5 linked regions of the Homo sapiens genome follow. The protein of the gene in region 4 interacts with the protein of the main gene of each other region in a biochemical or structural test. Each region holds a gene or a part of one and is shown on either strand. Other genes may lie near its edges. The genes, in order: TCF20, SMARCAD1, NFYA, TOPBP1 and SIRT1.

Evidence for each region.
Region 1: the proteins of TOPBP1 (region 4) and TCF20 form a complex in vitro, tested with the Homo sapiens proteins (one study listed by BioGRID).
Region 2: the proteins of TOPBP1 (region 4) and SMARCAD1 form a complex in vitro, tested with the Homo sapiens proteins (one study listed by BioGRID).
Region 3: the proteins of TOPBP1 (region 4) and NFYA form a complex in vitro, tested with the Homo sapiens proteins (one study listed by BioGRID).
Region 5: of the proteins of TOPBP1 (region 4) and SIRT1, one has a biochemical effect on the other in vitro, tested with the Homo sapiens proteins (one study listed by BioGRID).

What each region holds. Positions count from the first base shown.
Region 1 is NC_000022.11:42,203,016-42,208,951, reverse strand, and holds part of TCF20 (transcription factor 20), read left to right. Parts: intron 1-5,936. UniProt on the Homo sapiens protein: Transcriptional activator that binds to the regulatory region of MMP3 and thereby controls stromelysin expression. It stimulates the activity of various transcriptional activators such as JUN, SP1, PAX6 and ETS1, suggesting a function as a coactivator.
Region 2 is NC_000004.12:94,247,044-94,252,979, forward strand, and holds part of SMARCAD1 (SWI/SNF-related matrix-associated actin-dependent regulator of chromatin subfamily A containing DEAD/H box 1), read left to right. Parts: exon of another isoform or gene 1-1,510; intron 1,511-2,610; coding exon 2,611-2,712; intron 2,713-3,618; exon of another isoform or gene 3,619-3,708; coding exon 3,709-3,790; intron 3,791-5,572; coding exon 5,573-5,936. UniProt on the Homo sapiens protein: DNA helicase that possesses intrinsic ATP-dependent nucleosome-remodeling activity and is both required for DNA repair and heterochromatin organization.
Region 3 is NC_000006.12:41,074,627-41,080,562, forward strand, and holds part of NFYA (nuclear transcription factor Y subunit alpha), read left to right. Parts: intron 1-640; exon of another isoform or gene 641-723; intron 724-850; exon of another isoform or gene 851-1,072; intron 1,073-4,402; 5' UTR 4,403-4,463; coding exon 4,464-4,538; intron 4,539-5,936. UniProt on the Homo sapiens protein: Component of the sequence-specific heterotrimeric transcription factor (NF-Y) which specifically recognizes a 5'-CCAAT-3' box motif found in the promoters of its target genes.
Region 4 is NC_000003.12:133,598,295-133,603,934, reverse strand, and holds the end of TOPBP1 (DNA topoisomerase 2-binding protein 1), read left to right. Parts: intron 1-2,541; coding exon 2,542-2,685; 3' UTR 2,686-3,697; downstream 3,698-5,640. UniProt on the Homo sapiens protein: Scaffold protein that acts as a key protein-protein adapter in DNA replication and DNA repair. Composed of multiple BRCT domains, which specifically recognize and bind phosphorylated proteins, bringing proteins together into functional combinations.
Region 5 is NC_000010.11:67,906,220-67,912,155, reverse strand, and holds part of SIRT1 (NAD-dependent protein deacetylase sirtuin-1), read right to left. Parts: exon of another isoform or gene 5,902-5,936; coding exon of another isoform or gene 5,869-5,901; intron 5,367-5,868; coding exon 5,219-5,366; intron 4,111-5,218; coding exon 4,031-4,110; intron 2,901-4,030; coding exon 2,714-2,900; intron 1-2,713. UniProt on the Homo sapiens protein: NAD-dependent protein deacetylase that links transcriptional regulation directly to intracellular energetics and participates in the coordination of several separated cellular functions such as cell cycle, response to DNA damage, metabolism, apoptosis and autophagy.

The sequences.
Region 1 (5,936 bases), on a different chromosome or scaffold from region 4:
CTTCTCCTTTTCCCTAGGGTCTTGAGATGTCAAAATGATAGGTCTTGACTAGGTCATTTCATGGTTGTGTTGGCTACTCTATGAGATCTTATGTACGCTGATGTCTTTCAGTTCAGGCAATTTGTCATGTGGTAGTTCTTTGAAAATTTCCTTCCCTCTATTTTCTCTGCTCTCTTTATAATTCCTGTTAATATAAGGCATTTTACCTCCTGGATTGATCCGCTGTTTTTATCTTTTCTCCTCTGTTTTATGTTTTATCTCATTATCTTTTTGTTCTGATTTCTCTATGCTTTCTTCAGCTTTATCATCTAATCTTTTTTGTATGTGGGTTTTGTTTTGGTTTTGTTTTGTTTTGTTTTGTTTTGTTGTCACTCAGGCTGGAATGCAGTGGTGCGATCACAGCTTACTGCATTCTCGAACTCTGGGGCTCCCTGGTACCTGGGACTAAAGGTGTGTGCCACCATGCCCAGCTAATATTTATATTTTTTGCAGAAACAAGGTCTCACTGTGTTGCCCAGAGTGGTCTCAAACTGCTGGACTCAAGCAATCCTTCCACTTCGGTCTTCTAAAGTACCAGGATTATAGGCATGTGCCACAAGCCACAGTGCCCAGCCTTCTAGCCTTTTATTTACTTATTTTTTTTCTTGATATTTTGAAGAGCTTTTTTTTTCTCTGAATGTACTGACTTTTAAAGAATAATCAGAGCCTAGTTGATGGCTATAATCGTTTCTCTTGCTTTTTGAATACATTATAACGTATTTTTTGTTTTTGTTTTTGTTTCAGTTTCATGCCCTTACCCAGGCTGGAGTGCAGTGATGTGATGATGGCTCACTGCAGCCTCCAACCACTGGGCTCAAGGGATCCTCCCAAGTAGCTGGACCACAGGTGCATGCCAGTACACCTGGCTAAGTTTTTTACTTTTTGTAGAGACAGCATCTCACTTTGTTGCCCAGGCAGGCTGGTCTCACCACCTGAGCTTAAGCAATCCTCCCACGTCAGCCTTCCAAAGTGCTGGAATTACAGGCGTGAGCCACTACACTTGGCCTGTACTATAATTTTTAAAAATCTTTGTCTGTTTCCTATTTTCTCTTTCTTGTTAGAGGTTCTTCAGATGTCTTGATTTTTTTTTCTTTATTGAGATGGGGTTTCGCTCTTGTTGCCCAGGCTGGAGTGCAATGGCGCAATCTCAGCTCACCGCAACCTCCGCTTCCCAGGTTCAAGCGATTCTCTTGCCTCAGCCTCCTGAGTAGCTGGGATTAGAGGCATGCGCCACCATGCACAGCTAATTTTGTATTTTTAGAAGACATGAGGTTTCTCCACGTTGGTCAGTCTGGTCTCGAGCTCCTGACCTCAGGTGATCCGCCCACCTCGGCCTCCCAAAGTGCTGGGATTACAGGCTTGAGCCACTGCACCCAGCCTTGATTTATATTTTTAAGAGAGAAAGAGATGTTTTAAAAAATGACTTGAAGCTCTCTGTTACAGTATGGGCCAGGCTTGCTAGCCTGTAGTCCTCTCCGTAGAATAATAAGGCAGCCAGCCAGCATATGGGTCTTTTTTCTGAGTTGAGTTTTCCCAGAGGAAAAAAAAACATTTTTTTTTTTGTTCCAGAGAAAAATCTTGAGATTTCCTGTCTAGAGATGCAAGCTTGGCTGCCAGCGTCCTAAAAGCCAAGTGGAGAAGAGGATGGTAGGGTTGTGTGGGTGGGGATATGGGCTCATGATTCAGTGCGCGGACTTTGACAATCTCCCGCCTGTTTTCAGTGGATGAGAACAGTTACCTGGTTGAACTGGGTTAAGGATCTAACTCCTCTTAGAAACTTTGGGCTAATGCTCTATTTTTCAGCCCCATGTTGCACCCCCACTTACTGAGGCCTCCCCAAGCTCTGTGCCCTAAAGTGGCTGGCTTTCTGGGGGCTCCTCCACTGCACTCATCATTACTGTCTGCTTCCTTGCAGTGCACAGAATCACTGTCACTCACTTCATCTCTCATGTTTCCAGCTTCCCATTGCTCATGGTGTCATGAGTTTATCTTGCAAGTTTATCCACTTTTTCGTGGGAAGGGATCAGATGGATGTACAACTGTATGTTTAGTAGTCTACCATATTATTTATAACCTTCTGGCAAAAAGAAGTGCCCATAGACTATAGTAAAAATTATATTGAATGTGAAATATATATTTGAAATTAGAACATTTTAATTCAGTCATGCAAGGAGCTTGCCCTTTACTCTTATCATGTCCCCTATCTCCCAATTACGGTCTTTTCTTTGTGCCTCCTTCCCTGTCTCCATTATTAACATCACGGTGAAACTCCAAGTTTGAGGTAGAAGATTCACTTCCCCTAAGAAGTTTATACACAATGACATTTTAAAATGCAAAGATCCTAGGAGGATGTAACATTTAAGACCCTCAAGTACAAAATTCTTTAGTCAAATTTGAGCGCTCAAAATAATCCGTTAATCATCCTCTTGTCAAAGTTGAGTTCTTGCTTCCCAACTTTCCTTGGAAAGTCACAGTATTTGGTGGGTTTTTTGTTGTTTGTTTTTTGAGACAGAATCTCACTTTGTTGTGGGGTTTCACCATGTTGGCCAGGCTGGTCTGGAACTCCTGACCTCAGATCATCCATCTGCCTTGACCTCCTAGAGTGTTGGGATTACAGGTGTGGGTCACTGCGCCCAGCCTGTTTATTGCTTTTTGATGTGCATATGTGTATGTGACCATCTGACAGTGTTTTCGTTATTTCAACATTTATTATTAACATATCTCAGCCCAGTTTTTTTGTGTAAACTTTTAGGTGTTCTATAGCAATAATTGATAATCAGTAATCAGGCTAAATCTTCCCCAGCAAATCTCTAGATCCTGTGTCTCAATTCAGGTCTTGGGCCGAGCATGATGGCTCACGCCTGTAGTCCCAGCACTTTGGGAGGCCGAGGTGGGCAGATCGCCTGAGGTCAGGAGTTCAAGACCAGCCTGGCCAACATGGTCAAACCCCGTGTCTACTAAAAATATGCAAAAATTAGCTGGACATGGTGACAGGCACCTGTAATCCCAGCTACTCGGGAGGCTGAGGCAGGAGAATGGCTTGAGCCTAGGAGACGGAGGTTGCAGTGAGCCAAGATGGTGCCACTGCACTCTAGCCTGGGCGACTGAGTGGGATTCAATCTCTAAAAAAAATAAGAAAAAAGTTAGGCTTGTTGTCTCTTTGAGCTGATGTACCACTATCACTATAAGATCCGTTTCTAGCTTTTATTTACCTAGCTTTTATTCTACTTTTCTCAGTGCACTCAAGGACAAATTAAAATTACACTAACTTGCCTTTTATTTAATTTGACAGATGATGTTTCAATTGTCCAGGATACTTTGAGTCTAGTTTTATCTTACTAGGTTTTAGCAGATAGATGCATTCAGTTTTGGTCTTGCTTAATGAGCATGCCCTTAATCCTATCATGTAAGATAAAGTCACATATATTTCATTAGAGATCCATTTTGGCCTATGTATTTATCAGGTGTTTTGACAAGCACGATGTTATATTAAAATATTGGGAAGTCCTCAAGAGACATTGCTCCTCTCCCTGTGTCACACTACTCTGAAAATTGCCGAAAACTAGAACATTTCTATATTTAAAAATGGTGTTTACTTCCCTTCCTTTTTCCCTTCCTTTTTCCCTTCCCACAAGTGTGGGACTTGTGAATCTATTCATTTCAGCACAAGTCCCCTTTGCTTCTGTCCAACATTGACCACTGTTTGCCTTGGTATAATTGTGTATGAGAATCACAATGACCTCTGACATGAATGATATTACAGAGGTAATTGCCTCTGAATGGGTATGGATATAACTTGGTATGTACAAATCACCTTTGAGACATTAAGGAATGCCAAGGCGTGCAGGGATGTGACAGAAGGTAGATCTGGTGGCCATGGATCCCTTGAGGCTGGATAGCCCTACTAGTGGGGGAGTCGGGGAGTCTTTGCTTGTTCCCCTCTCATAGAAGGTGCCCCTCCCAAATTTTTCCAACCCCCCTTGGGAAACTTTTAATCTTTTTTTTTTACCTGACAGTATATGTTAACTGGTTTTAGGTTAATTTTTATTTTCTATTTTTATTTTTATTTTGAGATGAGTCTTGCTCTGTTGCCAGGCTGGAGTGCAGTGGCACAATCTTGGCTCACTGCAACCACCTCCTCGTGGGTTCAAGTGACTCTCCTGCCTCAGCCTCCCAAGTAACTGGGACTGCAGTCATGCACCACCACACCTGGCTAATTTTTGTATTTTTAATAGAGACAGGGTTTCACCATGTTGGCCAGGCTGATCTCAAACTCCTGATCTCAAGTGATCCACCTGCCTCAGCCACCCAAAGTGCTGGGATTACAGGCCTGAGCCACTGTGCCTGGCCAATTTTCTTTAAATTTCTGAATCAATATATTAAAGATTATATTTAGGGTTTTTTTTCCTTGATTTTTTGAGACAGGGTCTCACTCTGTTGTCCAGGCTGGAGTGCAGTGGCATGATCTCGGCTCACGGCAACCTCCGCCTCCTGTATTCAAGTGATTCTCCTGTCTCAGCCTCCCCAGTAGCTGGAATTACAGGTGCGTGCCACCACACCCAGCTAATTTTTGTATTTTTAGTAGAGACGGGATTTGAGGATGTTGGCCAAGCTGGCCTTGAACTCCTGACCTTAAGGAATCCACCCTCCTCGGCCTCCCAAAGTACTGGGATTATAGGTGTGAGCCACTGCACCTGGCCAGTTTAGGGGCTTATTTTTAATACAAGTTTAAATAATGGATAATTATTTACTTCCCCCATCTAACAGACTCACATCTTTCTTAAATTTACTTTAAATTGTGATGGAAAACATGATTTGGAAAATATAAAATAGATTGATTACATTATGAAAATGAAATCACATATTAAAACATCAAAACAGCCAAGTCAGAAAGGTAGGCTCTCTAGTTTAACTGTAAAATAGAGCCACCAGTCTACATGCTCTCTAAATTCTCAACTATATGTTCCTTGAAGGTGGTCATTTCCAGGGCCTGGCAAGGCCCCCATCCTGGTGAAGGCTCCCTTCAACTCCTGTTCTCTGCTCCTAACTCCAGTACCTCACCCCCACCCCTACCTGATTGTTCTTCCTCTGTGCTTGCTACAACTGCCCTTTCTCACATTCCCACACTCCCTTTCTCCATTCTCCTCTCCCTCCCAGCCCCCTCTCTCTGGCAAGCACTTGCTTTTTGTTACTTCTGCTGGGACCCATCTTCATTTCTCACTCTCTAGGCGGTGGCGCCCTGTTCCCATGGCTTTCAGTATATAGCAGAGACTTGTATCTAATTTACCTGTTTTTCTTAACACTGTGTGGTATATCTTTTTATATCACTGCATGATGACATTGACACTAAATTTCCAGAGAAAAGGTTCATTTTCTTTCAGGATTTCGTCCAAATTCTAAGGAATCAAGTGAAATTTTCAGTTTTGAATTTTATTGCATATATTACCTTACAGAATAAATCATGACAAATTGAAGGACTCAAATTTTACTACGATTTATTTCTTGACTTTTTTTTTCTCTCTAGAGGTAGGGGGATGATGTGGGGAGCATTACACTTGATTTTAAAGTAAAATTTATAAGGAGTACACGATTCTTTGGCCAAGGCTGGGCAAGGTGGCTTATGCTTGTAATCCTAGCACTTTGGATTACCTGAGCCCAGGAGTTTGAGACCAGCCTGGGCAACATGGAGAAACCCTGTCTCTACCAAAAATACGAAAATTAGCCAGTCTTAATGACCTAGTCTCAAAATAAATAAGTAGAGAAAAATATTCAAAAAAATCCCAAAGGACCATAAACAAAAATATTGATAAACAAGCCACAACACACAAGTTATTATATGTTAATTACTCATCCCTGGGATGTTAAACTAGTTATTGCTAATCTGTTAAAAGAGCTAA
Region 2 (5,936 bases), on a different chromosome or scaffold from region 4:
AAGGAGGCATCTTACATTGGGATGGGATGGTGGTGTCAATATCTGCAGTTCCTTTAGGACTGTAGTAATTGCTTATTGTTTTGATTGAGAGGGACAATTCTAGGGACTTGGATTTGGTGTTTCCTATAATAGTAGCCCATACATCATGGGTCAGGGAACTGATATAGTATGGGATTTCTGCCAGTGCCAAATATGTCTGTTCCAACTATGATTCTGGAGATGGAAAAATAAGCACTGGGTCGAATCATATCCCTTGGGCCCGCTGAGACAGATACAGTCCCAAATTTTATCAGCTAGCTTTTGTAAAGTGTCTGTGTAACCTCCTGGACCACATGAGTATATTCAGTCACCAGGGATAAGCAGAGCTGGCATAAGTGTGGGACCCAAGAGCAAACAACACATGATAGGCACACCATCTACTAAATATTTGATTCCGAAGAGCTGTTTACTGTTTTCCAGATATTTTATGTATTTTTTTATTGAGGTGAAATTCACATAGCATAAAATTAACCATTTTAGAGTGAACTATTTAATGCTATTTAGTACATTCACAGTGTTGTATACCATCATTCCTGTCTAGTTCCAAACGCTGTCATCACCTCGTAATAGCATGCTATACCCATTAAGCAGTTTCTCCCCATTCCCTCCTCCCCCTAACCCCTGGCAACCGCCAATCTGCCTTCAGTCTCTGGATTTACCTATTCTGAACATTTCATTTAGGTGGAATTATATAATATGTAACCTTTTATGTCTAGCCTCTTATTTTTTAATTTCAGAAAAATGTGTTTTATTTGTTTTTTCTTTTTTCAACTTTATGTTAGAATTGGGGTACATGTGCAAGTTTGTTACAAACGTATATTGCGTGATGCTGAAGTTTGAAGTATGAATGAATCTGTCACCCAGATAGTAAGGATAGTACTCCATAGGTAGTTTTCCTTAACTCTTCCCCCACATCCTCCCTCCGCCTTCTTGTGTTCCCCAGTGTCTGTTGTTCTCATTTTTATGAACACGTGTACCCAATGTTTAGCTCCCATTTATAAGTGGGAAATGTGGTATTTGATTTTTCTGATTCCACATTAGCTTGCTTAGGAAATGGTTTCCAGCTACATCTGTGTTGCTGCGAAGAACATGATTTTGTTCTTTTTTATTAGCCTCTTACATAGCATAATGCTTTCAGATATACTACAATGTTCATTCATGTTGTGGTGTGTATCAGTACTTCATTCTTTTTTATGACTTAGTGATATTCCATTTTATGTGTTTACCACAATTTGTCCATGACGCACATTTGATATATTAACAAATGAACAACTGAAGTTTAGTTTTCACTTATGTAGTGAAAAAGCAGTGGTCTAGAGTTAGATACTTGGATCTGTTCCCTCCTCAGCTGGTTGTTGTCCATCTGTGAGCTTTAAAATACTGTTCTTGGAATTTCAGTGTGCCTGGGCTGTAAAGGTGGCAGTATGAATTTTGAAGATTTTGAAATGGTTTCTCCAGATGGGTTTCACCAGTATGTCTTATTATTCCCCTGCTCAAAATCCTGTTGCTTCTTAAAAAAGACTAACCTTAGGCTTTATTCCATGTTAGCTCTGGTTTAATTCTTCATCCTTGTAACCTATTAACATTCTCTGCATTTGAGCCCAAGTAGACCACTTAGTATTATGAAACACATGCAATTTTCTTCTTTAGTCCAGATATCCATAGCATTTTATTGGTCTCTGTTTTATGAAATTTTATTTTACTCCATTGTGCAGAGGAGGTATCAGAATTTAGTTATTTCTATCTAAGGTACTGAAAGAGAAAAATAGCAATTCAGTTGTTGGATAATAAAGGAGGTTGAAGAAGAAGATTGTATTTTTCTCCATCTTGTGTGTATAGCATGTGGTGCAGTTCTAAGCAGAGTAGAAAAATGCTTTTTGATTGACTAAAATTTTTCCTATGCATGAACACAAGGAGTCTTTTCTTTTTGCTTAAATGTGGACTTTAACCAGTTTCTTCAAGTGAAGTTAAGTGACAGAGAAGAAGGAAAAGTGAGACTATGTATAGCCACAATTCTCATATTAATTAATCTGTTCGGTTTATACATTATTTAGTTCCACTTAAATTCCTTTTATCATTGTTTCAGTTTTATGTTGTGACTGAACAATTAATATTTAAGCCATTCTGTGAATCAAGAGTGAAGTAAAAGTAAACTCTTCTCAGAATTTGAAATTTATAGGTGGATATATAATAGTGAACATAGATGAGATATTTGTATCCTTTTAAAATTTACCGTTGTCTTGGAGAAGGCATCAGTATACTTGAATTATATTGAGTTAATTTGAGGATCATTCTAGTTTTTTAGGAGATTTATCTCATTTTAAGCACTGAGAATAAAGTTTGAGTTACCGGATATGCAATCAGGGTCTTTCAGTGATCTTAAGTCAGCAATATTTTTCATCCTTAAAGACATAAATATGTCAATGTTCACAGAAACAAAAAGAAACAGTTTGGATTCTTCTGACTGATGATGATAATTTTCAGATCAAGTCAAAATACAATGATAATTGCCTTAAGACCATTGTTATTGATATCTCTTAAATTGTTTTCTTTTTTTTTTCTCCCCATTAGGGAGAGGAATCAAATGAGTCTGCAGAATCTAGCAGTAATTGGGAAAAGCAGGAAAGTATTGTACTGAAATTGCAAAAGGAATTTCCCAATTTTGATAAACAGGTGAGTAGTCGTGTATGAAAATTTAATCAGTGTGTACTAAGTGTTTTTATTATAAAATAGTGTTAAGAGTTCAACCACATAAAAGCTTAGGGTGAGTTTTGTATTCTTCTAATTAAATGTTCTCCTTTTATCAATGTTATAAAGTATTTTCATACTGTTTATTTATGTTGTTTATTTACCTTGTTTACTATAGTATCTATACTGTATCCCTAAGTCATTAAAAAATAACCGTAATAAAAATTGTGAACTCATTTATAACATGTAAGTCATCTAGAAAGTCATCTGTAACCCTGCCCCCATCAAGTAACTGCTTAGTTTTTTTCATGTTCTCATTCTTGAAATTTCTTACAAGAATTTAAAAAGTATTCCATTTCAGTGTCTTAATATTTTATAAGCTTTCTACTACTTCCCAGATAGTGAGAATGTTTTCAGAGTCATTAAAAAAAAAGACTCATGCCACGCATCCTGTTGCTAAAAGGCCCTCTGTTTAATCCCATGATCATATATAGAAGCACATATTTGTTTAGCATTTAGAGTACATTTACACTTGCACTGATTTATTTGAGTATATATGTTCAGATAGTACATCTACTAAATTCTGATGAGCTGAATGCAAAATCTTGTTGCAATATTGGTTCTTTACCTTTGTTGAAACTACGTTTTGAAGTTAGCAGTTTGTAAAAGCCTAGCTGCATATTGAAATTTCATTTTTAATTGAGAAAACATTTCTTGATCCTCTAGTGTTCACAGTACTTCATAGTGAGCATTAGAAATGCAAAAAAATGTCAAGTTTTCTTTCCTTTGAAGACTATTGTGTATTTGTGGAGGTGAAATTACACAGAAAGCATTTGTAAAGCAGTGTAAAAACAAGTGCAAAATAATCAGATGTGAATTCTCTGTTTTCAGGTGATTAACTTATTTTTAAAAGAGCATAGACGTTTTCTGCAAGTTGCTAATTTGAGATTTTTAACAAAAAGATAAATGACTTATTTCTAGGAACTTAGAGAAGTACTCAAGGAACATGAATGGATGTACACAGAAGCTTTAGAATCTCTAAAAGTGTTTGCAGAAGACCAAGGTAATTATTCTGGGTCATAGAAAATACATACTTCTCATTATAGTCTGTATTTTAGTATATAAGAAAATGGTATATAAGAAAAGCTATTAGCTGTTAATCAGAGGGTGGGATTGCAAAAGATGTTGAAAGTAATGATGTAAAAACATTCTTTAACAACCAGTTTTTAAATGTTTTGACCTGCCTGTTCTTTATCATAGTGTAAAACAAAACAATAAATATCTTTTTCTATTTGTTCAGTCTTTCTTAATAGTTAAGGCTACTTTTAAATTGCCATGTTTTATTGAGTGTAAAATAACCTTTTTAACAACTGTCAGGATGGATCTTGTGATTGGTGATATCATGTCATTACTGTAATGTAGATGTCTTAGCCTATACTTGCACAGATATCAAAAGCACTAGCATCAAAAACTTAAGGGTATCATAGGCATGAACACATTTTGGAACACTCTTAATTCTAGGAACCAAATGATAGAGGAGAGGTGGTAAGGAAGAGTTGAGTCATACATGTTTAGTAACATACCTAAGGAAGAATCAAGTAGACTAGCTCTTCATAATTGCAAACCCAGCATGGTAGCTTTTGGTGTTTTGGTTTGGGTTTTTTTGTTTGTTTGTTTTTAATAAATTGTTTTAAAAGGCTATACTACCAATACTGTTGATGGCACAGAAAATGATATTCTGTGGCAAAAAGAAAGCCACCAAATATGAGTTTGAAAAATGAGTCAGAAGAGCCATGTTATGAATGTGAAAACATTTGAGGAATACTTTAGCCAATTCATTTTGCTTATTTTTTATAAATGCACAAAAATAAAGGTATGATAATCTGTGTAAGTCTAATAGCTTTCTGAGTAAGTAAAAATTTCTGAATAAAGTATTGTATTATAGATTGGTGCATGTTTTCTCACTGGTACATAAAATAATGGTGTTACCTTCATTCACAGGCATCTTAGAATTCTGTAAACTGATAATCAGTGATAAAGTAGTGGGGCTTTTTGATAATACTGTATTTGAATAATTTTTTTTATTTTTTATTTTTTTTGAGACGGAGTCTTGCTCTGTCGCCCAGGCTGGAGTGCAGTGGCACAGTCTCGGCTAACTGCAACCTCCACCTCCCAGGTTCAAGCGATTCTCCTGCCTCAGCCTTCTGAGTAGCTGGGATTACAGGCATGCACCACCATGCCTGGCTAATTTTTATATTTTTAGTAGAGACAGGGTTTCACCATGTTGGTCAGGCTGGTCTCGAACTCCTGACCTTGTGATCTGCCCGCGTCGGCCTCCCAAAGTGCTGGGATTACAGGCGTGAGCCACCATGCCCAGCCTATTTGAATAATTTTTTAAGTAACGATGCAACTTAGAATATTGAAGATAGTATTGGAAAATTATGGATAGTTGAAACATACACACTTTTTATTAGTAAGCTTTATAGTAGTGTAAGCATCATTCTGCTATATTCTTCAGTGTTGGCATAGTTGAGTGGGGCTGCTAGGAATATCTGAGACATCATACAGATACGCAGCTGCCATTTGTGTTCTCAGGACCTTTGTTAGAAAACAGAGATTTATATTTAATTCATTTTAAAAACAAGTTATCACCTGCTTTTGAAACAATTGTTTAACTTCAAATTCTACTTAAGTATTTTTAAAGTGTATCAAATTTAACAATAAATTGTCGTTGAATTCTTCTGTATTCAATAGGAATAGGTAAATGTTTTAAGTTTTTATTTGAAGTCTATCTTTATATTTATGTATTTCTAATTTAGTTACTGTTTTTGTCTTTTATATACAGATATGCAATATGTATCACAAAGTGAGGTTCCAAATGGAAAAGAAGTTTCTTCAAGAAGTCAAAATTACCCTAAAAATGCAACTAAAACAAAACTAAAACAGAAATTTTCAATGAAAGCACAAAATGGCTTTAACAAGAAACGTAAAAAAAATGTTTTTAATCCAAAGAGAGTTGTTGAAGACTCTGAATATGATTCAGGTTCTGATGTCGGTAGTTCACTAGATGAGGACTATAGTAGTGGTGAAGAAGTGATGGAGGATGGCTATAAAGGTAAAATTCTTCACTTCCTTCAAGATGCTTCAATTGGTGAACTTACTTTGATTCCTCAGTGTTCTCAGAAAAAGGCTCAGAAGATAACAGAACT
Region 3 (5,936 bases), on a different chromosome or scaffold from region 4:
ATGGGATAGGGAAGTGGGCAGTAGTTGTGATAGTTTAGGGGGGAAAGCCCAGTTGGTAAAATACTTGTATATCTTGCTAAGGAATATTTTGGAAACAGTTATTATTTTGTATGGAGGTTCAAGTAGAAGGGATCTAGAGCTATATTTTTTCCTAAGATTGAAAAAACGAGTTTCTGACTTGTTTATGGGTTCTGCCCCGTGATAGTGGCTGAGTTCTTTGGGGATGAAGAGGAGACTTGTCCTAGGACTCTGAAAATTATTTTTACTCATGTGAATCATCTAGTGCATTCCCTGGCACATAAAGGTCTTAAGTATCTGGTGCCCATTTCTAAATTCACATTTAATGTTATACAACTAATAGGTTTCAGAAAACTCGTATTCCAGTGCTCTTTCATTACTAAAACTTCGGGGACAGGTTTTATTTTCACTTTTTAGGGTGAGTTTTTCATTGTTGCTTAAGTGATTTTCTTAATTCATTTGATTGTCACGTTATCCGCATTAGCAGATGAGATGATAGAGCTTAAGTAGTCTAAAAAACATGTATATTTGCCTTTGGAACGTTTTTTTGTTTGTTTTTGGATACAGGGCTTTCCTCTGTCATCCAGGCTGGAGTACAGTGGCGCAATCGTAGCTCACTAACCTGGAACTCCTGGGCTCAAGCCATCCTCCCTTCTTGTTCTCCCAAAACGTTGGGATTACAGGCATGAGCCACTGCGTCCTGACCTGAAATAGATGTTTTAACCTTAGTATTTAAAAATAGGTATGTTCTGGTCACTTCAAAATCACTAAATACTTTTGCTTGGCATCTTTCTAAAAGGCATTATAATCTGGTAACTTTTTTGCTAAATACCTTACAAGCTTCCACCAGTCTGCAGAAGAATTTCTTTGTCTGACATTTTGAGAGAAAGTAGTGTGGCCCCAAGCTTTTTTTCCTGTTTAGTCCACTGTTCACATGCTGAAATATTTCTGTTCTTGTTTTTATGCTCTCTTGATTTGTAGTACTTCACCTTCCTCCACATCATCACATAGCTAAATCTTTCTCACACTTAAGACCAGTTCATCCTGCAGGCCTCTGATAGCAAAGAAAAAAAAAGTTCAAGTAGTACCTTTTTTTTTTTAAGCCTTGTTGATTTATCCCCAGCTGGAACAAATCTCTGTCCTCCAAATTCCCATATCACTTTATCTCTTAGGATTCCAGTATAGGTTTTTAGTCCATTACTAAACTTAAAGACTCTTTGAAGTTTGAATCTTCGTCAGAGATTTCTTTTTATTTTTAAAACCTTCAGAACAGTGTCTGGCACATGGTACATAATTAGTGGAGAGAAGTGCATTAGAAAGCTCCAATCCAGAAATCTGTAGGATGATGGGGAAGCTGGACAGCCCTTTGTTGTAGTCTAGTCTTTCATCAAGCGTCTATCAGGACCCACTTGTTGAGTTGTGAAAGAAATTGAGTGAGCCAATGCTGGGAATTTTTAAATAATAGAATAGAAAATATCTGCCAGGCATGATGATGGCTCACGACTGTAATCCCAGCACTTTGGGAAGCCGAAGTGGGAGAATCCTTTGAGCTCAGGAGTTTGAGACCAGCCTGGGTAGCATAGGGAGACCCCCTCTCTTAAAAGAAAAAAAAGAATAGAAAATACCAAAGTGCATCTTGTGTTGTATAAAGGTAAATGCTGTTTCATGAAACTTTCATTTCAGTTACATGCTTTATACATGTGTGCACTGAGTTGTGATAATGAAATGTGTTTCTTACTAAGGGTTGTGGTCAAAAAAGTTAAAAAGCTACTGTTCTAGGCTTTGCCTGGTAGTGATTATCAACTGTGATAATCCTATGGCTTTTCATATGCTTACACTAGTTGAGTTTCTGAAGAGGTTTTAGCTTTGGAGTTTGTGTAGGTCCACATAGAATGGGTTCCTAGTAAGTGGTTGGCTAAGTCTCAGCTTTTGCACCTTGGAATAGTGGGGCAAAGAGAATTGCACTGAGAAGAGAATGCACTAGGAAGAGAATTTTCATGCTAGCCAGAATAAACACTTATTATTTGTTTCTCTCTCTTTGAGGAAAAACCATTCAAAACTTTGTGTTAAGAGCAAGAGCTAGACAGACTAAATCTGGCTTAGTTTGTCATAATCTTGGGCAAAGAGGCACTTTGGGAAAGACTATCGAATTGTATTGCAGTCTTGCTAACTGAAGCTCACAGTAGTAGGAACATATGACTTTACTGAAGCCAGTTGCTTATAGCATTAACCATTAACAGTATCAATATCATGATACAGGCTAAATCACTCTGTCATTAATGTGAGAGAGAATTGCTGCTAGATTTGAAGCTGCTCTTCAAATCTTGATACTCTTCAAAGTATAAATTTAAATATTGCTAAATTGGTTCATTTGTATTACCAGAATAAACTAGTTAAGAAGAAAATCTGTACGTTACATATATTAGTCATTATGTGCTTCAAGTTATATTTAGTCTTGTAAAGATGTAAACTTCTGGATATTAGTCAAGGAAAAAATCTCATATAAGAAGGAAATTTGGAGTTGGGGAGGCGTTGAAACCTAAAAGACATTCCTTTCATGATCCTTATTTTTTAAAATCAATTTATTGAGAGATACTTTAGAAACAAAGTATAATAATTTTAAATGTGTATTTTGATGAGTTTTGACAAATTTGTACACCTGTGCAACTGCTACCACAATGAAGATATAAAACATTTTCATCACCCTACAATGTTCCTAAGGCTCCATGCCAGTCAACCTCCCTCTTTCCTGTCTCCCTGTATTCTCCACTCCCAAGGAACCACTGATCCATTTTCTGTCTCTAGATTACTGATGTCTTTTGGAGATTTTATATAAATGGAATCATATATATTCGTTTACATCATAACCTTAATTTTATTAGTTTATAGCCATAAATGTATTGTGTATTAGAGACAAGATAGAATTTAGGGAAGCCTGTTAGTGCCCCTAACAGACTCACAGTCTGGCTGAAAACCTGATTTTCTATTCTATACCCAGAATCTCTGAGGAGCAGACTTAGTCAACCAATTCCAAAGAGACTGGTGTAAAAATCAGAAAACCGGTTTGTCATGTTGCTGATTATATTTGCTCCCTGTTGGCCAATCTATATGTAAATCCAAATTATAGCTAGAAATTTACCTAGCGAGCATTCCATTAGATCAAGGGCAGTGCTTTGGAGAACCATATGGCCACAAGTCCTCTTGCTGTGATGACATAGCCTGTTATTTATGGCTCATAGATTCTTATGTTGTATCCATTTTGGTTATGAGTAATGGGGTTGATTAATTTTTATTTTGATTAAATTTTGTTATATTTTTCCTAACATTCCAACATTCATTTGGGAAATAAGAATTTCTCAAAATTCTTATTCTAGAAATAAGAATTTTCAAGTGTGCAGTGAAATCAAAGGAATTTGAAAATAAACACCTGTATACCTGCCAGTTAGGGTCTATTAACATCTTACTATAATTGCCTTACCAGATATTTCTCCACCCATTCATCCATTTTTTGATGCATTTCAAAGTAAATTTTAGATATCAATACACTTCTTTCTAAGTACTTGGACATATAGTTGCACATATTTTGGTTTCTTCTTTCACACTGTATTGAGACACCTTGCAAATGATTAATTCCACCAGCATGTGTGGATTTATGGAGAGTGGTACTGTACTTTGCCACGATAATGAGCAGCTCAGTTAGGTCACGTCATTTTATTATTCAGATGTTGGAATTTATGAGGGCCTAGTGAAAAATCAGAGAGAAAGACCTATCTACATTTTTGTTTATATATCTGTCCTCCCTCCCATATTTCCAAGATGAATTGCCGATTGCTAACTTATATCATTTTAATTTTTTAATGAAGTCTTTATTAAAGGTTCTCAGATATCATTCAGTTTATCTAATTGTATCCTTATTTTTAAAAGTGGATCTTCAACTCTTAAAGTCTATGAGAAGGGTAAATTTTGCCTACCATATGTAGTGGACCTGAGTAACATGTTTGGTGGGAAGCAATTACGTGTTACAACTTAAAGAAGCTTTATTCTCTAAAGTATATGTGCAAACCTGAAAATCAGTGTTAGGTATGCCTTGTATCAAAGTGATGTAGCTTAACGAGTATCTCTTAGGTGCAAGTATTGCTCTGACAGTATTGAAAGGTAAGGTTGCCAGTATACTGAAAGCATTTTAGAAACGTGAAAATAGCATTATGTTGTTATGATTGTGCCATGTAATCCCAGTTAAAAATGATACTGAATATAAGCATTTCCTATTCTCCTATCCTGTTTTCTTGCAAATAAAGTACAGTGATAAATTATCCAGGTTAATTGTCTGGTAAGGCCTTTATTGACAATCTCACTTTAGTTTCTTTCCCCACCTTTCTAACAGGAGTGTACCTCACAGCCTTCTAGGATCTCCAGAGTGGACAGGAATCTCACTTGGAGGGACCATGGAGCAGTATACAGCAAACAGCAATAGTTCGACAGAGCAGATTGTTGTCCAGGCAGGACAGATTCAGCAGCAGGTATGGAAGCAAAACTGCTTTAAACATTACAGCAATGAAACTGATAACAGCACCACTCAATTGGTTGGTCTATTGCCCTGGGGAATTATTTGAAAGATACCAGATCTTGTGAGATATTGGGTCTGATGGCTTGTGCTGAAATGCCATGTCTAGCCCATGACCACTTAGAATCTACTCTTCATGGGTGCCTGGTTATAGTAAATTGCCTCTTTTATCTCATTTTAAGTAAAAACATCTAGTCTGGTTTTCAGATGGAAATTTGGACTTTAAAATTTTTCTGGATTCTATTTGGTCTTTTTCTCTTCTTGTTTGAGCTAACTTGTGATTTAGTAAGTCTTTGGCCACAACAGACAAACCAACATAGCTTCCAATAAATCTTCTGTTTTTTGATTTGGTCTGCCACATTTTTTATTCAGAAAAGCTCTGGTTTAACATTAGGATAATATTTAGACAGCCATTCTTATGGATAAGACATACTAGAAAGGAATTCCCTGCTGCTGGTTTATTCCTAATTAATAGATTGCTTTCTTGAATTTATACACAGGTTACATTTTCTGATGCTTTATGCTTGGGTTTATTATAGTAAAATTTCACTTTTTTCCCCACCCCAGAAGAAAAAAATGTATTATGTTTCTATTTGACCTTAGGCCAAGATTGATATTTTGGAAATACTTTGTTTTCAAAATGGAATTTAGCTAATATAGAAAAGTAGTAGGGAAGGGAAAGGTAGTATTGATGATGAGTTTTTCCCGTCTAATGATCAAAGACGAACTCCCCTGATAGCTTTCCCTTCCATACAGCTGCTGTGGCTCTGGCAGTTTCCTTCAACTGCCTTTTTAGAGGAAGGGATTCCACAAAGGGCCCTCCATTCACACCAGTGCCCTGGAGGGTGGGTTTTTATTCTTTCAGAATTTGCCATTAGTGGATGTAAAAATAAGGTTGAATCATTGAAAACATGGCTCTTAAAGCAGTCCAGTTGGGTAGAAATAATCTTAGTTTTGAAGCTGGGCATGGTGCTGCATGCCTGTAATCCCAGCTACTCTGGAGGCTGAGACAGGAAGGTTGGCTTAAGCCCAGGAATTCAAGACCAGCCTGGGCAAAACAGCAAGACCCCATCTCAAAATAAGTACATAAATAAAGTTTAAAAAAAAAAGAATCTTAGTTTTGGGACATGAGAGCATTGACGTCATGAAGATGATTTCGGTTCATAGTGATTAATTACTCCTCCTTTCTTGGTGATTGCATTTAAGCCCAGAATTTTTTATGGTAGTTTCAGGGCTATTAAAACCTAATCATTTTTTTCTTGTGAACTCATCTGAGGAGATAAAAAGGGCATTAAACAATTGTGTAAGTAGAAGTGTCAGATTCCTGTTTCTGGAGGGAAAGATTGCATTACAA
Region 4 (5,640 bases):
TTATCACCCAGCTTCATCTATCTTAATGAACATATCATATATGTGAAAGATTTTATATTCTGCAGCTGTTGGGTGTTGTGTTCTAAAAATATCAAATAGGTTAATATGGTTGATAATGTTGATCAGATTTTCTGTGTATGTGGGTTTTTTTGTTTGTTTAGTTATATCAATTACTGATACTAAAATCTCCAGCTGTTTGTGGAATTGTCTGTTTTTTCTCTTTAATTTTGTCAGCTTTTACCCCATTTATTTCAAACTTTGTTGCTAGTTGTTTACCCATATATAATTTCTTTGATTTTCACATATTGATCCTTTGTTATAACACGTATCTCTGGGCTTACTCCGCCTTGAATGTACATTATCTGAGGTTAATATAGCCTTTTCCTGTTTACTCTGTGTCATGATATCTCTTTGCATGGTTTTTAATTTTAAACTTGTCTGTGTCATATATTTAAAATGGCTTTCTTGTAGATAGGATATAGTTGGGCCTTGCTTTTTTTTTCTTTGGAGTGTTTAGTCCATCATGTAATTATTGATATGATTGGATTTAGGGATGGGGTTTTTTGCTGTTTGTTTTCTATTTGTTCTTTGTCCTTGTTCTTCTTTGTCTTTCTTGGCTTTTTTTGTATTAGTTTAATATTTTTAGAATTTTATTTTATCCATTGGCCTTCTAAAGCAAAAATATATTTACCTTTTGGAGGGAGAAGTGTTTATATGTAGATTACAAATTACTTCCTGAGGCCGGGCATGGTGGCTCACGCCTGTAATCCCAGCACTTTGGGAGGCCAAGGTGGGCAGATCACCTGAGGTCAGGATTTCGAGACCAGCCTGGCCAATATGGTGAAACCGTGTCTCTACTAAAAATACAAAAATTAGCTGGGTGTCGTGGCGCACACCTGTAATCCCAGCTGCTTGGGAGGCTGAGGCAGGAGAATCACTTGAACCTGTGAGGCGGAGGCTGCAGTGAGCCAAGATCGTGCCTCTGCACTCCAGCCTAGGTGACAAGAGCGAAACTCTGTCTCAAAAAAAAAAAAAAAAAAAATGAAAAAAGGTAGATCTCTTGCATCCAAGTTGGTTCATTTGCTTCCCCTGTCCTTTATACCAGGGGTCAGTAAACTATAGCCACCTGGCCAAACCTGGCCCACTGCCTATTTTATAAATAAAGGTTTGTTGGAAAACAGCCATACTCATTCATTTATGTATTTTCTATGGCTGCTTTTGCACTATAATGGCAGAGTTAAGTAGTTTCAGCACAAATCATCTATCCCACAAAATCTAAAATGTTTCTGTCTGAGCCTTTACAGAAAGTGTGCTGACCTCTGCTTTATGCAGTAGTTGTCATATATTTTACATCTACATCTTATAGCCCCAAATAAGATTTTACTTTAAATAGGTTTTGCTTTTAACAATTCTGTGCATTTTGAGGAAACTAAAATAAAAAATGGTATTTTATAATTACCCTCATGTATACCAGTTTGAGTGTCAGTTTTCCCTGAAGATCTGAGTTTCCATCTGATAACATTTTCCTTCAGCCTGAAGAACTAACTTTAGTTTGGAGTGCAGGTTGATTGGGGATCAATTCTAGCTTTCTGTTGTATGAAATGTCTATTCTACCTTCATTGTTGAAGGACAGTTTTGCAGGATACAGAATTATAGATTGACAGGTTTTTTTCTTCTATTAAAGACTTCACTGTCTGCTGGCCTCCATTGTTTCTGTTGAGAAATCAGTGATGGTCATTTGAATTGTTCCCTTGTATTCAATGTGTCATTTTTGAGACCAGCCACCAGCCTGGGCAACACAGCAAGACCCTTATCTCCCCCTAAAAAAGAAACTCTAGGTTCTATTGTTCCTTTGCTCCTCCAAAGAGTACTGTGTTGTTTAACAGGCAGTTTACTTCATACACTGTGTTTGCGTCCCCAGCCCCCCATTTGCTTGGTTCGTTTATTCTCCAGGCTCTATGGTTGCTTTTAATATATTTTGGTCAGAATTTGTAGCTGTTATCCATGGAAGAATTGAATCAAAAGGCACTTACTTGGTATTTTGTGGTGATTCATTTTCAGGTTGCCCAGTCTGCCATATTGCTAGAAAATTAAGTTTTATTACACTTATAATAAGGAGGAAAAGATCCATTTCTATGTTGGGAAATGGTTGTGGGGGGAAAATGCAAGGGTTTTGGAGTCAGATCAGTTATGAAATTTGGCTTTGCTACCTGCTAGTTATGTGACATTGGTTGTTTTCATTTAACCTTTTTTATTTTATCTCAAAAATGGGGATTAAAAACACCGATATGAAATGTTTGTAAGATCTGAGCTAGTCCCACTCTACCTGAACCATACACGTATTTCTTTGATAAAAGGTGAGACTTTGTCCCACAGGGTCCATTTTGTTTAATTTGCTGGAACCTAGGAATGAATATGCGTTTTCCTTTAAGTTTGTCAGATTCATCCCTGAGAGGTCTGAGATTTAAAGAAAAAATCTATTACCAGATCACGTAAATGTTTGAAATCATTTTAAAAAATCACTTATTTTTCCTTTTATAGGAATCACCTCCTCATGTAGAAAATTACTGTCTACCAGAAGCTATTTCATTTATTCAGAATAATAAGGAACTTGGGACTGGATTATCACAAAAGAGGAAAGCTCCTACAGAAAAAAATAAAATCAAACGACCTAGAGTACACTAATCGCATCTACCCTTTAGTTACCAAACATTAAATGTTTTTAAAAATTGAAAGCCTGAATGTGACTGTGATAGATTTGGGTAGTAATTTAAAGATGAGTACCTGAAGAATTCTGCTTCAGAGTATAATGATGACCCTTCTTGAGTTTTGAACACCTGAAATTGTAATCACTGAAATATTAACTGTTTCTTAATAAAAAGTTACCTGAAATAACAACAAAATACAACTCCTCAGCTAGCTTGCTGTTAAACCACATTGAAGTCTGTTAAAAGATATTTATTTTTCTTGTAAATATCTGAAGCTGTAGCTTAGTGGAAATTTTAGCAAGGTAATGGATTTTGCTTTAAAATGTCTGCCTTACAAATTCATAACAACAAGATTTGTCAGTCAGCATTTATTCATGTTTTCCCTGATTTTTATCTTCTCACCATTTTACCTCTTTTAACAGGAGCCTGAGCACAAGGTTTAATGAGGAAGCTGGGGCTATAAATATGTGTGTATATATGTATATGTATGTTTGTACAAATCTCCATGATGTTTGCCAAGTTTGAATGCGCAAAACTTGGAAAATGTGACAATAAAGAATAAAAGTAGTAACTCAAATTAGTATTAAGATGTGTTTACATAGATAAATTTTTTAAAAGAGCACCCTGGCATCTGTTCTTCTGTTGAAGCAACAAAACATTTATGTAACGTAAAAAATGAATTGCAGGGGCCTGGGTGCGGTGGCTCGTGCCTGTAATCCCAGCACTTTGGGAGGCTGAGGCAGGCGGATCGTCTGAGGTCGGGAGTTTGAGACCAGCCTGACCAACATGGAGAAACCTCATCTGTACTAAAAATACAAAAAATTAGCCCAGTGTGGTGGCACATGCCTGTAATCCCAGCTACTCAGGAGGCTGAGGCAGGAGAATCGCTTGAACCCGGGAGGCGGAGGTTGCGGTGAGCTGAGATCGCGCCATTGCACTCCAGCCTGGGCAACAAGAGCGAAACTCCATCTCAAAAAAAAAAAAAAAAAGAATTGCAGGCCAGGCACGGTGGCTCATGCTTGTAATCCCACCACTTTGGGAGGCCAAGGTGGGTGGACTGCTTGAACCCAGAAGTTCAAGACCAGCCTGGACAACATGGCGAAACCCCATCTCTGCAAAAAATAGCAAAAAATTAGCCGGGCATGCTGTTTGATGCTTGTAGTCCCAGCTACTTGGGAGGCTGAGGCATGAGAATTACTTGAACTCAGGAGGCAGAGGTTGCAGTGAGCTGAAATCATGCCACTGCAACTCCAGCCTGGGTGACAGAATGAGACCCTGTCTCAAAAAAAATAAATGAATTGCTTAACATTTCTGATATTTGTTATTTAGAATATTGCCCTATTAGATTAAAACATACTGTTATTGGAACTCTGTATTGCATTAGCCTTTATTATGCTAAACCTAAACACCTAATACTACATGCGTTACCAGAATTCTCTATAAATACACCTAATTTCATTTTAAGGACAAACTAGAATCCGTTAGGAATGTAATTTTGATGTAAACCGTTCAATTCCAAATGACTTTTTGAAAGGCAGATTCAAACAGTGAAGGAGAGAGTGCTCAACTTGGACACAAAATCCCTTAAATTTTCATCAGATTTTCTTCAAAATGGAGTTGAGGGTATCCCTGCTGCTAGAGGATTGGTCCTACAGGGTTTTCAGCTTTGAGCTAGTTCACAGCTTAGGACAATACAAATTCTACACAGAGAAATAGGTAGCATTATGATGTAAACTGTCCCCCTCCCACCAAACAAAAACCACATGGGCCTGTCTTTATCAGAGCTATTTTATTTTAGCTGAATCATTTTGTAGATTGTAGTACGTTTCCCTGAATTTTATTACTCAGAATCCTTTGAAATAGGCCAGGCACAGTGGCTCACACTTGTAATCCCAGCACTTTGGGAGGCCAAGGTGGGCAGATTACTTTAGGTCAGGAGTTCGAGACCAGCCTGGCCAACATGACGAAACTCCATCTCTACTAAAAATACCAAAATTAGCCAGGTGTGCCGGCACGTGCCTGTAATCCCAGCTACATGGGAGGCTGAGGCAGGAGAATCACTTGAACCAGGAGGTGGAGGTTGCAGTGAGCCGAGATCGCACCACTGCACTCTAGCCTGGGTGACAGAGTGAGACTCCATCTCAAAAAAAAAAAAAAAAAAAATTCTTTGAAATAGTTACTTTTTAAATTACCTAATATACCACTTTCTTTTCTGCCAAAATTATGAATGGTTTTCCAGTTCAAACTTAGACACACAGTTTACCATTTAAGGCTCCAGGTCTCAGTTTCTCCTCCTAACTTTCCAGCATCTGCCCATACTCTGTATAAGCCACTTGAACTCTGGCTTTGGCTGTTAATCTGTAAATGTCCTAATGCCAGCAACAATATCCTCTTATATACAAATAATTCCAAGCATAGGTAGTCTTCTTGTTTAAAAAGGGGAGGGGGCAGAACTTGCCTTGATTAGATTAGTATGAGTTTCTTTTCTGAATGGCTACGATATTTTAATCTGTGATATTTAAATTATCACCTTATATCCCTCCACGAATTTTCCTGTGCATTAGTCTGATCTCACCAACATTCGTTAATTCAACAGGTAGGAATCCTCAACCTGTGCCTAGGATTCAGCAACAAACCACCTGGAACACATGGTCCCTTAGCACTTGAAGAGGTAGGAATCCTTACTGTAAATACAGTACTCAATTATACTCAGATTTAGTATTTACACTGTTAAGGACTGAGCTTGTCCCCCTAAAATTCACAGGTTAAAGCCTAACCTGCTATGTGACTGTAGACAGAGCCTTTATAAGGGGATTAAATGAGGTCATAAGAATGAGTCCCTAACCCACCAGGACTAGTGTCCTGGTAAGAAGAGGGAGGCACACCAGGAGTTTGCCGGCACGGAGGAAAAGCCCTGTGAGGACACGGGGAG
Region 5 (5,936 bases), on a different chromosome or scaffold from region 4:
TGTGGTGAGGATTAAATGAGTTAGTCAAGTGCACAGAAGAGTTCTTGGTACATAAATGTTCTACTTAAGTAGCTCCTGATATAAAGAAGGTGAGCTGGGTACAGTGGCTCACGCCTGTAATCCCAGCACTTTGGGAGGCCGAGGCAGGCGGATCACCTGAGGTCAGGAGTTCAAGACCAACCCGACCAACATGGTGAAACCCCATCTCTACTAAAAACACAAAATTAGCCGGGCGTGTGGTAGCGCATGCCTCTAATCCCAACTACTTGGGAGGAGAACTGCTTGAACACGGGAGACTGCAGTGAGCCGAGATCATGCCATTGCACTCCAGCCTGGGCAATGAGGGAGGGAGGGAGGATAGGAGGGAGGGAGGGAGGGTGGGAGGAAGGAAGGACGGACAGATGAACGGAAGGAAGGACAGACAGAAGGATGGACGAAGGAAGGAAGGAAGAACGGACGGGAAGGATGGACAGAAGGAAGGACTAACAGAAGGAAGGATGAATGGAAGGAAGGACAAACGGAAGGGAGGGAGGGAGGGGAGGGGGGGAGGGAAAAAGTCATATAAACATATTCTACGCTATTATAAACCTGTTTCTTTTTTTAATTATCTTTGCAACACATCATACTATCCCACAGAAAGCTTTTGAAAGAAAAGTTTTTAAGGACCAGGCATGGTAGCTCATGCCTGTAATCCTAATGCTTTGAGAGGCAGAGGAGGAAGGATCACTTGAGGCCAGGAGTTTGTGACCAGCCTGGGCAACAAAGTGAATCCCGTTTCTACAAAAAAAAATTTAAAAATTTGCCAAGCATGGTGTGCGCCTCTGGTCCTAACTACTCAGGAAGCTGAAGTGGAAGGACTGCTTGTCCCCAGGAGTTGAAGGCTGCAGTGAGCTGAAACTGCACCACTGCACTCTAGCCTGAGCTACAGCAAGACACCCGTCTCTAAAAAATAAAAAGAAAAGCTTTTAAGCAGAGTGCCTTTGATTTTGCTTTAAGAAGAGCAACTCAAGAACAAAGAGATTTGTATATTAAATTTTCATGTTTCATTTAATTGCAAATTGTCTTGTATTCTACTTTAACAGAATTTCACAGCTAATTAGGTAAGACTGAGTTAACTGCTAAAGCCACGAGATATGGGATAGACACAAAATTGAAGAGCTTGACTCCATGTTTCTTCCAACTGTTTACTCTGGCTGCCTTGACTGCTGATGTGGGGTCTAATTCAATTCTCTGGCTAGGGATTTAATATTTTTCCTCTCCTCTTTCCCTCACTTATGAAAGGACACATCTGATGCAACTGAAATCTCTCTCTCTCCTCCTCTGATTCTAAACTAGAGGAGGAAACAGACAGTATGAGAATATATATGACAAAGAAATTTTCCTGAGAGTAATAAGGATTTAAATTTTATGTGAACACTTTTATATACACACCCTTTTGGGTAAACTATATCGACATATCACCGTTATGGCATGGCTGTTACTACAAGAATGAACCAATCATTCTGAGCCCCCAAATTCCATCTTACATGGTATGTTACACTTCTACCAAACTATACATTTGAATTTATTAAATGTGAAATCAATTAAATTTGAAAGATCAAAACTGTAATCAAAAAATATAAGGATAAAGGACCATTTCATAAATTAATTGATGCTAACCCTTGCAACATTAAAAACACATTCCACCAAAAAGTCTAAGTTGAACTCTACCTTTGTCTTAATTTTTCACATAAATTAGAAGTAGAGTTTAGCATTACTTCTGGGTTTGTTTTTGATTTTTTGAGACAGAGTCCCACTCTGTCACCCAGGCTGGAGTGCAGTGGCACATTCTCGGCTCATTGCAACCTCTGCCTCCTGAGTTCAAGCGATTCTCATGCCCCAACCTCCCAAGTAGCTGGGACTACATGTGCACACCACTATGCCCAGCTAATTTTTGTATTTTTAGTAGAGACAGGGTTTCACCATGTTGGCCAGGCTGGTCTCAAACTGCTGCCCTCAAGCGATCCACCTACCTCGGCCTCCCAAAGTGCTGAGATTACAGGCACGAGCCACCAACATTACTTGCGTTTTGACAACCCTCCACCCCCCATCAAAATGTCAGATTCACCAGTCTCAATGAACAATGCCACCTAAAAAAACAGTTCAGCCAGATGTGGAGGCTCGTGCCTGTAATCCTAGCTACTCAAGGGGCTGAGGCAGGAGGATCACTTGAGCCCAGGAGTTCGAATCCAGCCTGGGCAACACAACAAGACCTCATCTCTACTAAAAATAAAGAATTTCTGGCCAGGCATGGGGGCTCATGCCTGTAATCCCAGCACTTTAGAAGGCAGAGACAGGCGGATCACCTGAGCTGAGGAGTTCGAGACCAGCCTGGCCAACATGGTGAAACCCGGTCTATACTAAAAATACAAAAACTAGCCAGGCATGTTGGTGGACGCCTGTGATCCCAGCTACTCAGAAGGCTGAGGCAGAAGAATCGCTTGAACCCGGGAGGCGGAGGTTGCAGTGAGCCAAGATATGCGACTGCACTCCAGCCTGGGCAACAAGAGGGAAACTCCATCTCAATAAACAAACAAACAAACAATTTCTAAAATTAGCTCTTCACCACTCTTTCAAACAGAAGCAGAGTTAAGATTACTAGCGTCTATTATACAGACCCACAACCCATGACATTATATATAGAAATGTTCTCCAAAAACCATCACCAACTTACTTGGAATTAGTGCTACTGGTCTTACTTTGAGGGAAGACCCAATAACAATGAGGAGGTCAACTTCATCTTTGTCATACTTCATGGCTCTATGAAACTGTTCTGGTAAATTTTCACCAAAAAACACAATCTCTGGTTTCATGATAGCAAGCGGTTCATCAGCTGGGCACCTAGGACATCGAGGAACTACCTACATATTTTCAGATTTTGGTTGAGGTAGAGAAGCAAAGAGTAAGCCCAAGTTAGAAATAGTCAACATTTCCATACCTCTAAGAATACATTTCAGAATTATTAAAAAAAAAACAAAACAGAAAAGCTATGGATAAACAGCAACTGTCAATGATGGGTAGTTTATTAACATACTATGAAACAATGAAATACTATGCTCTTGTTATAATATCTATGTAGAAAAACACTTGACATTGAAGAGTCCATCATATATTAAGAGGAAAAACATAATGTGTGTATATACACTAAATGGGAATTGATCCTTTCAAAAAAAAATAGACATTTGTCAAATAAAATGATTCCATTTTATTTATTTGAGATGGAGTCTTGTTCTGTTGCCCAGCCTGGAGTGAAGTGGCATGATCTCAGCTCACTACAACCTCCACCTCCCGAGTTCAAATAATTCTCCTGCCTCAGCCTCCCAAGCAGCTGAGATTAAAGGCATATGCCACCATGCCAGGCTAATTTTTGTATTTTTAAGAGAGACGGGGTTTTGCCATGTTGGCCAGGCTGGTCTCACTTCTGACCTCAAATGATCGACCCACCTCGTCCTCCCAAAGTGCTGGGATTACAAGCATGAGCCACTGCACCCGACCAATGACTCCATTTTAATATACTATTCTTCCTCTTTCGTAATGACATGATTACCTCCATATATTGCTAAGCACACAGGACATATTTCTGGATAATTTTTATTTTCTGCCAAATTTTCCTATATTTTTTGGCAATGAACATGTATGAAATAATTTTAGATTACCATAACTAATTTAAGGTCCAAATCTGACAGGCACAAAAAGGGAGAGGAAGGAGAAAAACTACTACAACAACAACTTGCTTATGATCTGACATTTTATGTTCGGCTTAGATACTAAGAAGCCAATTTCATAATTTGAAGAGCCTTTATAGGGCTGTTTTCTATATAAGGTATTGAAAGGTTCTCGTGTATTTTACCAAAATTCCCAAATGCTAACTATTTTCTTCCTGAATCTTTCTGTACCATATATACTTTAAAGGGGTAAAAAAGGATTTTGAGGCAAAAGAAGAAATACTTCAGAGACATGAACAATTCCTAAAATATGGGCAACAAATTACCTGATTAAAAATATCTCCTCGTACAGCTTCACAGTCAACTTTGTATTTACAAATCAGGCAAGATGCTGTTGCAAAGGAACCTAAAAACAAACAACATATATATGCTTTATTAAAGAAGTATTTCTGTTTCTTGAACACACCACAAACGTTATAAAGTTTAACATCACAAATGTTAAGAGGGTTTAAGGATTTTTGTTTTTGTTTTTAACTTTGATTTTAAACCTCAGAACACACTGCAGATTTTGTGATATACTACAGGAGAATCTAGGGGATGAAGAATTTATATATTTATACATAGAATGAATATGATTCTCAATCTCTGAGACACTAATATAATGATGCCTTCTAAAGCTACTCTTTTCAACAAAACTGTAACAGCTCACTCCTCCAGGGCTAAAATCCTGCAGAGTTGGACAGTTCCAACTCTATTACCTTAGCTCGGCAGTTCTTAGAAACACTTTAGATACCTAATGGCCTGTTGATACTTGTTTTAAACATTTCTGAATCTCTGAATCCTGTACATCTCAACTATCCAGTTCTTTTAGTTTCATAAACTAAAGATGTCACATTTCTTCATTAACAGCTAATACTACTCTTGTATTCAGAATTTCTTTTTCTTTTTTTTTTTTTTTTTTGACAGAGTCTCACTGTCTCCCAGGCTGGAGCGCAATGGTGCAATCTTGGCTCGCTGCAACCTCCAACTCCCAGGTTCAAGTGATTCTCGTGCCTCAGCCTCCTGAGTAGCTGGGATTACAGGCGCCTGCCACCATGCCCGGCTAATTTTAGTATTTCTAGTAGAGTTGGGATTTCACCATGTTGGCCAAGCTGTTCTCGAACTCTTGGCTTCATGGGATCTGCCCGCCTCGGCTTCCCAAAGTGCTAGGATTACAGGCGTGAGCCACTGCACTCAGCCAGAAAAGATTATTTAAAATAATTGAATGCATGCAACTGCAGCATCTTTTGAAATCAAAAGCAAATTAATATCTGAGGTTTTCTATAATTAACTGTCAAGGCCAATACTTCTGTTTTTATTATTTTTGTTTTCTACTTTTCTGAGGTTATCGATAAATGAGATAACATGATTAAATAATGCTTTATCTCCACTTCTCGATGGCAGTCAGCTTTATAGGAAATATCTTCCTATAAAACTAAAATAAATTACAGAAAACCACTCTGAAGTTTACTAACCATGACACTGAATTATCCTTTGGATTCCCGCAACCTGTTCCAGCGTGTCTATGTTCTGGGTATAGTTGCGAAGTAGTTTTCCTTCCTTATCTGACAAGGCTATGAATTTGTGACAGAGAGATGGCTGGAATTGTCCAGGATATATTTCCTGTATCAAGCAAATGGTAGAAAAAATTTACATTAGTGAAATAAACTACAGATGTCATATGTTTAACAAAAAAATACTGATAATCCCACACACATAATTTTAAAAATGAAATAGATGAGCATTTTAAAGTATCTAGATGGATGCGACACACACCTACAAAAGGACGGTTGCTGTCATATGCATAAAACTCAGCAATTAGTGAACTTGGCCCCTTGAAGAAAAAGACAAAGTCGGCCCATAAACATCTCTAAGAAATGTTGATATTTTAATAAAAGTCAGAAGTAATACAACCTTAGGATATCTAATTTTTGTTGGCTGCAAATTCAGATTTTTTTCTTTAAAGAAAAATGGGAAAGTTTAAACTAAAATTACAGATATCAAGGTAGGGTGATTTAAAAAAAAAAGCACTGTCAATACAAGAATATTTAAAATTTTTTTTTGATTTATCATTCATTAGAATATCAACCTGCTGGAAGTTTAAAGCTAAAGTTTTAATCCTTACCAAAATTGTTTTCCTTCCACTGCACAGGCACATACTGGTATAGTATAGAGTTGCTCATGAATGCTGAG